3 linked regions of the Homo sapiens genome follow. The protein of the gene in region 2 interacts with the protein of the main gene of each other region in a biochemical or structural test. Each region holds a gene or a part of one and is shown on either strand. Other genes may lie near its edges.

What was found.
Region 1: the proteins of RARA (region 2) and FOXO1 form a complex in vitro, tested with the Homo sapiens proteins (one study listed by BioGRID).
Region 3: the proteins of RARA (region 2) and TRIM24 form a complex in vitro, tested with the Homo sapiens proteins (3 studies listed by BioGRID).

The regions. Positions count from the first base shown.
Region 1 is NC_000013.11:40,660,019-40,663,768, reverse strand, and holds part of FOXO1 (forkhead box protein O1), read left to right. Parts: intron 1-3,750. UniProt on the Homo sapiens protein: Transcription factor that is the main target of insulin signaling and regulates metabolic homeostasis in response to oxidative stress.
Region 2 is NC_000017.11:40,326,150-40,329,899, forward strand, and holds part of RARA (retinoic acid receptor alpha), read left to right. Parts: exon of another isoform or gene 1-1,335; intron 1,336-3,750. UniProt on the Homo sapiens protein: Receptor for retinoic acid. Retinoic acid receptors bind as heterodimers to their target response elements in response to their ligands, all-trans or 9-cis retinoic acid, and regulate gene expression in various biological processes.
Region 3 is NC_000007.14:138,582,245-138,585,994, forward strand, and holds part of TRIM24 (transcription intermediary factor 1-alpha), read left to right. Parts: intron 1-1,605; coding exon 1,606-1,755; intron 1,756-2,497; coding exon 2,498-2,707; 3' UTR 2,708-3,750. UniProt on the Homo sapiens protein: Transcriptional coactivator that interacts with numerous nuclear receptors and coactivators and modulates the transcription of target genes.

The sequences.
Region 1 (3,750 bases), on a different chromosome or scaffold from region 2:
TAGAGTAAAGGTATCACTTATCGCTTCATTACCAGGCATTACATGCAATTTTACCAAGTGTTTCAAAAAAGTAAAGTGCCTTCTTACCGTTAAGTTCAGCATATATTCTATTAAGTCACAAAATCGAAATTGTCTGCCAAATCTTGTTTTACTTAACATTTGAATTTAAGTACTTGACTTACTTGCTCATCTATCAATTCCACTTCAGCTGTTACAGAGTATTAGCCATTTAAAAAAAAAATCCTCCCCCCTTTTTTTGCATTCAAAGTACAGTGTGTACTTACACCATTCTTTAGTCCTTGGAAATGGATACAACCTACTTCAACTTGCTGGAGTGCCTTTCTTTAAAGATAAAGGAAGTGTTTTGGGATATTTTTAGTTTTGCGTCTCAAATGGCATTGTCAGAGTGTTAGTCTTAAACTAGGAATATGCTTACACTTTTTAAGATTTAGGTTTTTAAAAAATAGATTCTGATGTTAAATCATCTTTACAACCATTTTTATCAGGTTCTTGTTCTGATTTTTTTAAAAATGCAAGAATAATTTAGTTTTTTTTTAAATTTATTTGCCAGAGCTAGGAGACCTGTTAAGTTATCTGTCTGGAATTGGAGGCCCTTGGGCAGCTCCCAGTGGGAGCCTAATGGGGCTTTGCTTTGGAGTAGGCTGCCTTTCTCAAATGAGTAAGTGTTTCAGGTGTAATGTCAGTTGGTTTAAGTCTGATTGCAGCAAGTACATTTTCAGTTTGAGTAAAAGGGTATTTTAAGAAGAAAAGAAACAACCTGAGCTGTTCTAACTCATAACTAGTCTTTTGGTTAGTTTCATAAAAATGAGTTACTTGTTAAAACCAAGTTTCACTCTCAGATCTGAAAGACTCCTGTTCTAAGAGTCATAAAAGAGAAATTTTACTATGAATTTTAACTTAAATCCAGTTTTTAAATGCAAAGCAACCAAAACTTAACTGTTTTAGGACCGAGGAGAGGTTGCTTTGGCACAAAATATTTCCTGTGATTTACTACTGGGAATTAGGCTGAATCTTTAATTAAATAGTTTCTTGTGTGCTGCTTCCTGGGGCCTGCCTGAAAGTTTGAGTCATTTGCATAGGACAAACTAGTTGGAAAACTGTTAATGAATTCAAAAACTTTTAATGTCATTCTTTAGATAGTTAAGTGCTGGTTATATTTGAAGGATATGCATTTTGTGTTTGTGGGGATGGTATGTTAAATGTCTTACACTTGTTGTAATATTGGCTAGAATTGCTATAAGGTCACACACAAAGTGGAACCTAAGACTTTTGGAAAACCCGGGATCTTCTAAATCTAGTGCAGTATTTATAAATAATGAAACTTCATTTCCATGACCTGTTTTTTCACATAGAAAGCCTTCTAAAGCTTGGGAAGTGGTAGTTTGAACTCTGATTTTTTTTAATAAATGGCAGTTTTGAGTTGACTCTTTTGATATTATTAGGAACACTTTAGGTTAAAAGAATGACTTTGACTATACCACTTAACTCTTGTTAAATAAATTTTTAGATTGTTTTATTAGAGGTATCCTCTTTGATTTAAAGATAAATATCTTTTTTTTTTTTTTTTTTTTTTTTTTGAGTCAGAGTCTCACTCTGTTGCCCAGGCTGGAGTGCAGTGGCGCAATCTCGGCTTGCTGCAACCTCCGCCTCCCAGGTTCAAGCAATTCTTCTGCCTCAGCCTCCCGAGTAGCTGGGACTACTGGCACGTGCCACCATGCTTGGCTAATTTTTGTATTTTTAGTAGAGAGGGGGTTTCACATATTGGCTTGGCTGGCCTCGAACTCCTGACCTCGTGATCTGCCTGCCTTGATCTCCTAAAGTGCAGAGATTACATGCGTAAGCCACCGTGCCTGGCCCCAAAGCTTTTTATTTTTAAGATAAATCTTTAATTGGGAGTGATGTTTCTTATTTGGCCTATGAACTGACAGTGGATTTCCTTATGTTTTGAAATAAATATTCTGTAATTTGGGTATAATCTATAGGTGAGTAATTGAACCAGCCACAGAGATCCCGTTAGAAAGATGGCTGCTTTTTTGTTGCATGGTCACATTTGACTTAGAGAATCCTGGTGAGACCGAGTGGTTAGAGGATCTGAGACATCTTTCCTACTTCTGGATTGTCACTGAAATTACCTTAAAGAAAGCCTTGATAGGCTGGGCGTGGTGGCGCACACCTGTAATCCCAGCACTTTGGGAGGCTAAGGTGGGCGGATTGCCTGAGCTCAGGAGTTCAAGACCACCCTGGGCAACATGGTGAAACCTCATCTCTACTAAAATACAAAAAATTAGCCGGGTGTGGTGGCAGGTGCCTGTAGTCCCAGCTATCGTGCCAATAATCCCAACTACTCGGGAGGCTGAGGCAGGAGAATCGCTTGAACCTAGAAGGCGGAGGTTGCAGTGAGCCGAGATCACGTCACTGACCTCCAACCTGGGCAACAGAGGGAGACCCTGTCTCCAAAAAAAAAAAGAAGAAAGCCTTGATAATCCTGTATATGTACTTGGGGAAGCGATAATGAAGAAATAATTTAAAATGGATGAGGGGGTTATGCAGCTAAATGTAGCATCTTATTAAGGGCTGAAAGTTACCTGAATCTATTTGAGAGCTAAAACATTTTGTTCAGAAATTCCAAAATAGATGCCAAATTGGAATACTTCATTTCAGACTCCCAAGAGCTTTACTTTTTACGCATGGTTTTGTGGCATGTCCTTGGTTGAGGGGATGGCGAGAAGAGTGGCCTCTTTTTGAATGATTCTCATTTTTGTTGTTGTTGTTGTTGTTGTTGTTGTTGTTGTTGTTGTTTTTCTGAGCCAGGGTCTCACTCTGTTGCCCAGGCTGGAGTGTAGTGGCTTGATCTCAGCTCACTGCAACCTCTGCCTGCCCCTGGCTCAAGTGATCCTCCCACCTCAGCCTCCCGAATAGTTGGGATTATCGGCACGAGCCACTGCTCATGGACTAGTTTTTTTTAAGTGACAAACACTTGACTATTGAAAATAAGGCATTTTAATTCTCATGTAAACTTGAAAAAAGTTAAAGGTCTTCAAGATCCCAAAATTGCTGAAAAGGTATCACATTAGCAGCAGACACATAGATTTCATGCTCCGCACACACAAGGAATCTTCTCCGAGGCGATACGAAATGGGATGAGGGGGAAGAATATTCAGTGGCAAGTTAGAATGCCTTGCAGACTGTAAACATGTTGCCTGTCCTTGTGCTTCTAGCCCCTTCATCCAAGCATCTAAACTGCAGTTTTGTGTTAGGCTTTCTAAGATAGCAGCTGTATTTGGCTGGAATTTCTCTGGGGAAGCCTGAATGATTTGCATTTTTCTGGAACACTCTGCCCTTGGAAACTACCCAGTTCCCTGGCATCATGGGAATTTACCCAGCCATTTTTTTGGCCTATATGTGCTGTAGCTTTGGGGCTTTTTGGGGATCCTCTTGGAAAGGCAGTGTAAATACCACATAGTGATTGGGGAAGGCAGAATTTTCAATTGTGTGGGAGTTGGTCTGCTTCCCTGCAGTTCAAGATTTGCCTTTGCCTTTGTAGCAACAACTTGCAGAGACTTGCCCAGCCCCCCCAGGATCTCCCTGGGGTCATATAACCAAGCACCTTTTCTTGGTACATAAAGAATTCTGATGCTTCTGGTGGTGTTCCTCAGCTGTGAAACAGAAGACCACATGTACTTGAAAAAGTATGTATTTTGATGCCTAAGGGATATGCTGTGTACAAAT
Region 2 (3,750 bases):
GCCCTGGGTGGGGTGAGGCAAGGGAAAGCAGGCCGACTGCTGAGGGGCACCAAGGTGGTGGCAAGAGGCATGGGGATGGAGGGCTCCAGTTGCCCGGGCCTCCCCTGTGCCAAGCTCTGGTCTGGGTGCTTTCCAGGACTTCCTGTCTGAAATCGCACAGCTCGTTGTTGAGGTAGGCAGTTCACAGGCGAGTAAACAGATGCTTAGAGAGGTTAAGTGACTTGCGTAAGGTCACCCAGAGTGGCAGAGCTGAGATTTGACCCTTCCGACTTCTGGTTCTTTCTCCCATCTTCGTGGCTCAGAAAGCTCTCACCTTTTTCTCTAGGTGTGTGACTCTGGGGTGTAACGCGTGGGCAGCTAGGGATGCTGATGCTGGAGAAGGGATCCTGGCACCTTCTGAGGGTGAGAGCGGCCCCAGTGGGCAGGAGTGTGGGGCTGGTTGCAGGTGCTCTAGCCCCCTACCCCTTTTTCTGCTGTGCTTAGGCTAGGCTCCATATATTGGAGGTGTGGGCCTGTGGTTTTCTCTCTCTCAGGGGAGGGTGCCCGTGGGCAGTGGAGGTGGCTGGCATAGGGTGGAGGTTGGATGTGGGTAGTTTGTTTTCCCTCTCTTTGGTACTGGTTTCGATTCTCTGCCGAGGCCTTCTCCACCCCTGGGGTGTAGGGGGCTGGGGCCCAGGTGTCTCTCTGAGGGTCATAGCTTCTGATGGACCTTCTGAGGCAGAGTCTGTGCCCTTTTGGGCCCACCCTGGTCATCCCTACCCTTGCCCATCCCTGTTCTCTGGTCTTTCTGGCCCTTGGCCTATTTCTGTGACCTTTAGCCCTCCTGCGGCTCAAGGCCCTCCCCAGGGAGCTGAGTAAATTTGCACTGAAATTTGCAGGCAGAGCTGGGTTAGGCTTTTTGGAGGCTCTGATAGGGGTCTGGGGAGGCCTTCCAGCCTTGCCCTGTAGTGTGTGTGGGTGGTGGGCTGGGGGTGAGGTGGGGGTAGTGGGGATTGAAGTTTGATTCAATTTCAAACTCCACTGGGGCAGAGTTGAGGTGGCTGTGGTTTTCTCTTCTCTGGGAGCAAGGGTGGGTTCCAGAGGGTCCAGGCTGGACTGACTAAACTGGCCTCCCGACCCCCAAAGGCTGGGTCAGGATGCCTGAGATCTGGAGTGATGGCTTTCTGGGCCTCAGCGTGGGTTACAGAGGCCTCACTTTGGGTTAGCTGCCCCTTGGGCCTCACCTTGAGAGAGGCAGGCCTCTGTGGATGTGAATTCACCTGAGTGTTTGTGGACCTGGTGCATGGGCTGGGCCCACAGGGAGGACCTCAGAGCATCTTCTGGCAGAAGCAGCAGGTACAAGGGCCACCCTGGCTGTGTGAGGTTCGGAGAATGTACAGTTTGGGAGACTGTGGGGCTGTGGTTGTGTCTTTGGGGAGCTGTGTACTGGGGCCCATGCATGCAGTTTCTGAGCTGTGTTCATTGTGTGGTGGAGCCCAGGTGTGGAGAGATGGTATCTCCAGGTTCCTTCTCCTCACATGCATGCCTGCACACACACAGGCTGGGGCTGCAGGCGTGCTCTTGCCCACCCAGATGTTTTCTGTAGACCTGCATGCATGAGTTTGTATGTGTATTTGTGTGTGAGGGTCCAACTGTAGGAACTGATGAGGTTCTGCCAGCCTCTTCTTCCCTTGCATGGCTCCCCCAGCTCCAGTTCCCGTTGTGTGGGGCCCCACAGGAGTTGGGAGGGGGCCAGGGCGGCAACTGGTCCAGTGGGTGGGGCCCCTGTTCCTCTGACATCAGCCCTCTCAGCCTAGGAGGGAATTGGCAGGGGCCTGGGGTAGGAAGGGAGCTCTTTATTCAGGAGTGAGGAGAGAGGCCCTATGATTGTCATAATGAGTAACAGTAAAAATCGTGGTTATTAGCAAGGTCCAGATTTTACTCCTGGGGCAGCCTCCCCTCCCTAGCCCAGTACCTGTCCCCTCCCACCCTCTCTCCCTCAGTTCCACACAGGCTGGCTGGCTCAGCTGGGCCAGAATTCCTGGCCTCTTCCACAGTGGCCTTGGCAGGAACTCCCCCTTCCCAGGCCTGGTCTTCAACCAAATGCTGGCCATGTGCTTGTCCCCTGGACTCCAGATTTGAGGCTAGAGTCTGGAGTTCAGAGCTTGGAACCTAGTGTAGCCTGAGCTTGGGGTGGAGTGGCAAGGTATAGGGGGTGTTGGAAATGGACAGTCCTTATTTTGAGTCTCTGTGGCCCTGTTTCTTTTCTTTCTTTCCTCTTCTTTTTAAAACAGCTTTATTGAGATATAATTCACATACCATAAAATTTACCCATTAAAGTGTACAATTCAGTGGTTTTAGTATATTCAGAGTTGTGCAACTACCACCACAATCAATTTTAGAACACTTTCATCACCCCAGAAAGAGCCCCCATACCCAGCAACAGTCACTTCCCATATTCCTCAAATCCACGCCCCAGCTCCTGGTAACCACAAGTCTGCTTTCTGTCTCTATAAATGTGCCTATCCTGGATATTTCATATAAATGGAATCCTACAATACATGGTCTTTGTAACCGGTATAATGTTTTCAAGGAATATCCATATCATAGTATCAGTACTTCATTCTTTTTTTGGCAGAATAATGTTCCATTGTAGGGACATACAACATTTTATTTATTCGTCAGTTGATGGACTTTTGGGTTGATTCCACTTTTTGACTATTAGGAATAACGCTGCTGTGAATGTTCATGTATAAGTCTTTCTGTGGACTTACGTTGTCATATCTCTTGGGTAGATACCTAGGAGTAGAATTGCTGGGTCATATGCCATCGCTGTGTTTAACCTTTTGAGGAACTGCCAAACTGTTTTCCAAAACAGCTATTCTATTTTACATTCCCACCAGCAATATATGAGGATTCCAATTTCTCCACATCCTCGCCAGTACTTGTTATTATCTGTCTTTCTTATTAGAGCTAGCCTAGTGGGTATGAAGTGGTATCTCATTGTGCTTTTTTTTTTTTTGAGATGGAGTCTCACTCTGTTGCCCAGGCTGAAGTGCAGTGACACAATCTCGGCTCACTGCCTCCCAGGTTCAAGCAATTCTCGTGCATCAGCCTCCTGAGTAGCTGGGATTACAGGCATGTGCCACCACGCCTGGATAACTTTTGTATTTGTGTGTGTGTTTTTTTTTTTTTGGAGACGGAGTCTTGCTCTGTTACCCATGCTGGAGTGCAATGGTGTGATCTCAGCTCACTGCAACCTCCACCTCCCTGGTTCAAGCGATTCTCCTGCCTCAGCCTCCCAAGTAGCTGGGATTACAGGCACCTGCCACCATGCGCAGCTAATTTTTTAGTAGATTTTTGTATTTTTTAGTAGAGATGGGGTTTCGGCATGTTGGTCAGGCTGGTCTCAAACTCCTGACCTCAGGTGATCCACCTGCCTCAGCCTCCCAAAGTGCTGGGATTATAGGTGTGAGCCACCGCACCCAACTGACTTTCGTATTTTTAGTAGAGACAGGATTTTGCCATGTTGGCCAGGCTGGTCTTGAACTCCTGACTTAGGTGATCTACCTGCCTTAGCCTCCCAAAGTGGTGGGATTACAGGCGTGAGCCACCGCCCCCAGCCTCATTGTGCTTTTGATTGGCCATGTTTCTTTTTGTCTGTCTCTTTTCTTTTGTCTTTCATATATGTATTTTTCATATATAAATACATGCATATGTATTTATATATAACCTGTACCCAAAATGGATTTGAAACATCCTCTTGTCCTC
Region 3 (3,750 bases), on a different chromosome or scaffold from region 2:
AGTTTGATGTGACTGTGGCCGGGCGCGGTGGCTCACGCCTATAATCCCAGCACTTTGGGAGGCCGAGGCGGGCGGATCACGAGGTCAGGAGATAGAGACCATCCTGGCTAACACGGTGAAACCCCGTCTCTACTAAAAATACAAAAAATTAGCCAGGTGTGGTGGCAGGCGCCTGTAGTCCCAGCTACTCGGGAGGCTGAGGCAGGAGAGTGGCGTGAACCTGGGAGGCGGAGCTTGCAGTGAGCCGAGATCATGCCACTGCACTCCAGCCTGGGCAAAAGAGCAAGACTCCGTCTCAAAAAAAAAAAAAAAAAAGTTTGATGTGACTTTAACGCATAATTTTAGAGTGCTGGAAAGGGCCTGGTACCCCAAAAGAGTATTCTTCTAATGTCTGAACCCCGGAGGCGGAGGTTGCAGTGAGCCGAGATTGCGCCATTGCTCTCCAGCCTGGGCAACAAGAGCAAAACTCTGTCCCAAAAAAAAAATTTTTTTTCATTTGTTCTACAGTTTGATAAATCTCAAATTAATACAAAGTTGAGAAGAAAATCAGCTTAGTAAATACAGTCAGCTTCTCTCTTAAGAACAGGTTTTGAGAACTTGATATAGGAAATAAATACCTCCAGGGAGAAGGGTCTTTTGTACCCAAAAGAGGCAGGGTAAAGAAGTCGAGAGGCTTGTAACAACATTACCAACTTGAAAATGTAACCTTGAATTGTACTTTTTATTATCCTGGCTTACAGTTACGTTATTAATACCAACAATGACAAAGTAGCCCCCTTTTTCTTAATAAATATCATCTCATTTAGTCTGTACAAAATGCTGTGAGTTTGGCAGGATTATCCCTATTTGAAATATGAAGAAACTGAGGTTAAGTAGCTTACCCAGGACCATGACACTGAGCAGCAGAGCTGGGGATTAAACCCAGATTCAAAGTCCTTCTTCCTCTTGTATAATACATGCAGCAAAAACATGTCAGATTCTACTAGAAATGATATTCTTCCTAGTAATTGCTTTTTGTTTAATAATGAAGAAAAAAATCTAGATGATTAAGAGGAAATATGTGAAGACAAGTTTTTTCATTAAAAATAATTGGGGCTGGGTGCAGTGGCTCACGCCTGTAATCCCAACATTTTGGGAGGCTGAGGCAGGCAGATTGCTTGAACCCAGGAGTTTGAGACCAGCCTGGGCAACATGGCAAAACCCCATCTCTACAAAAAATACAAAAATTAGCCGGCTATGTTAGCGCATGCCTGTAACCCCAGCTACGCGAGAGGCTGAGGTGAGAGGATCACTTAAGCCCAGGAGGCAAAGTTTGCAGTGAGCCGAGATTGTGTCACTGCACTCCAGCCTGGGTGACAGAGCAAGACCCTGTCTCAAAAATAATAATTGGTTAAACTTTTGGAAAAAGTCACACAAACCTTTACCAGTGTGTGTGGAAGGCAGTGGGCACTTGTAAACACTGTTAAATGGGTTTCTTTACTAATGGCAAATAGCACAGAGAAAAGCAATGAGAACATTCTGAATTTTAGAGCACATCTCATAGAATATATTTAGGACAAGGTGGAATTTAGCTATTTGTATTATAACATCTCATTTTTTTAATAGGTGCCTGATTATTACAAAATAATTAAAAATCCAATGGATTTGTCAACCATCAAGAAAAGACTACAAGAAGATTATTCCATGTACTCAAAACCTGAAGATTTTGTAGCTGATTTTAGATTGATCTTTCAAAACTGTGCTGAATTCAATGAGGTGAGGCTAGGGGAGGGAAGGGGGCAGGAAGGAACAGCAGTGTGAAAATCATTTTATTACTAAACACCTTGTCAACATAGGAGACCAAGATGTCTGAGTTAGAATAAATTTCCAACTTTTCAGATCAGGGAATGCAAGAGATAATTCAGATAACTCTGTCCACATTTATATTCAAAGGTTTATTAGATGGTGATGGAAATGCAAATTACAGCTGATAACTGAAAGACAAAATGTTTTTCTCTGACCTAGACATATTCTTTATCATTCCCACCTGTATTTCTTATTTTTATGTTGATCTTGAAATATTAAGGATGTGGGCCAAATAGCTCTAATTTAAAAATTTCTCATCTGTCAGTTCATCTACACATCAGTCAGACTTAGAACCTTTTGCTGCTGGTGGTTTGTTCTCTGTTACTCATTCTAATAGTACTACATTTAATTTGTTCTAAAAATACCTGGTTCATGATCCTATGGTTATGGAATCCTAACTGATATGTGTTTGGCAATATAGTCCTACCATTACCACCTTCTTTTAGAATAATCCAGGCTTTTACTTTTATCTTTTTTCCACACTTCTGAATCTTTTATTTTAGCTGGCCTTCTGTACAGAGACTTTGTCTAGTCCTAAACTATTATTTCAATGACTATGCATGAACACTTTTCAAAACAGCTCATTAATATATATAATCTCAGAAGTCAAAAGTGTGTCCTTTTTTTACTCATTTTTATTTTTACTCCACAGCCTGATTCAGAAGTAGCCAATGCTGGTATAAAACTTGAAAATTATTTTGAAGAACTTCTAAAGAACCTCTATCCAGAAAAAAGGTTTCCCAAACCAGAATTCAGGAATGAATCAGAAGATAATAAATTTAGTGATGATTCAGATGATGACTTTGTACAGCCCCGGAAGAAACGCCTCAAAAGCATTGAAGAACGCCAGTTGCTTAAATAATATGCAGCACCACTAGCTTGTGCTGGTTTTTAGATTTTTTTGTTTTCAAAAAAACATTTGTCAGTAATTTAACATCACTACAAAAAGAAGAGTTTGTGACTATTCTCATCTCTGTTTTGGACGTTTACTAGACTTTGATTTCCTTAATAGCCCATTTCTGTTAACCTCTTATCACTAAGAAAGAAAGGAAAGAAGGAGATGAATAGAAGAAAGAAAATGGAAAGAAGGAAAAAAGGAGGATAGAAAAAGGATGGAAGAAAGAAGCATTGAAAACAAAGACATTCTTCCCACTTCTTGGATTTTTAAACCACAGTCTGGAGTGATAGCTACTGTAGAAAGGAAATAGACTTTGTATGAACTCTTTAAGTTGAAAAGTAAAAAATATATGTGGTTTGGATGTGTGCTTTAATTCAGCTTTAGAAATTAATACCACTACCCGTGAATTATATGGCCTGACAATATGAATTAGGTGTACTGTACTGAAGAACAGTACTCCACAAACATGGGTGGTAACAAGAGTTCCATCCCAGGAGGCCAAACGGTGCAACAGAAGGGTAGGTTAGATGCTATTAAGAAGGCACTTAATAGTACATCATGTAAGATGGCAACTGTATTAAAGAAAAATCCGGAAAACAAATGTTTGATTTTTGTTTTTGTTTTTATCTTGTCTGTAGAGGTATTTTGGTATAGCAGGTTTTCAAGGCCATTTTTTATACATTTCTAGATCTAGATTTTCAACTTCTTCCACTGAGGGAAGTATATACATTTGGGTTTGCTGTGTGTCTATGTGAGGTTTAATTGTACAGGTGATCCTTTTACAACAAGCCTCATTGTTTGCAGTATAGCTTTTAGTGGAACTACCCAAAATATAAATACAGCAGCGTGCACTGTATTTGATGTGAGGGTTCTTCATCATATACCCTACTGGGCATTAAATATAAGTTCCTCTGAAAGGGACTCGTTTTTGTGGTTTTCATCTGTCTATAATTTGGAATGAAAATGTGTTGTAGGATTTTGGGAGCAGGCAGCTGGGGGGAATTAAT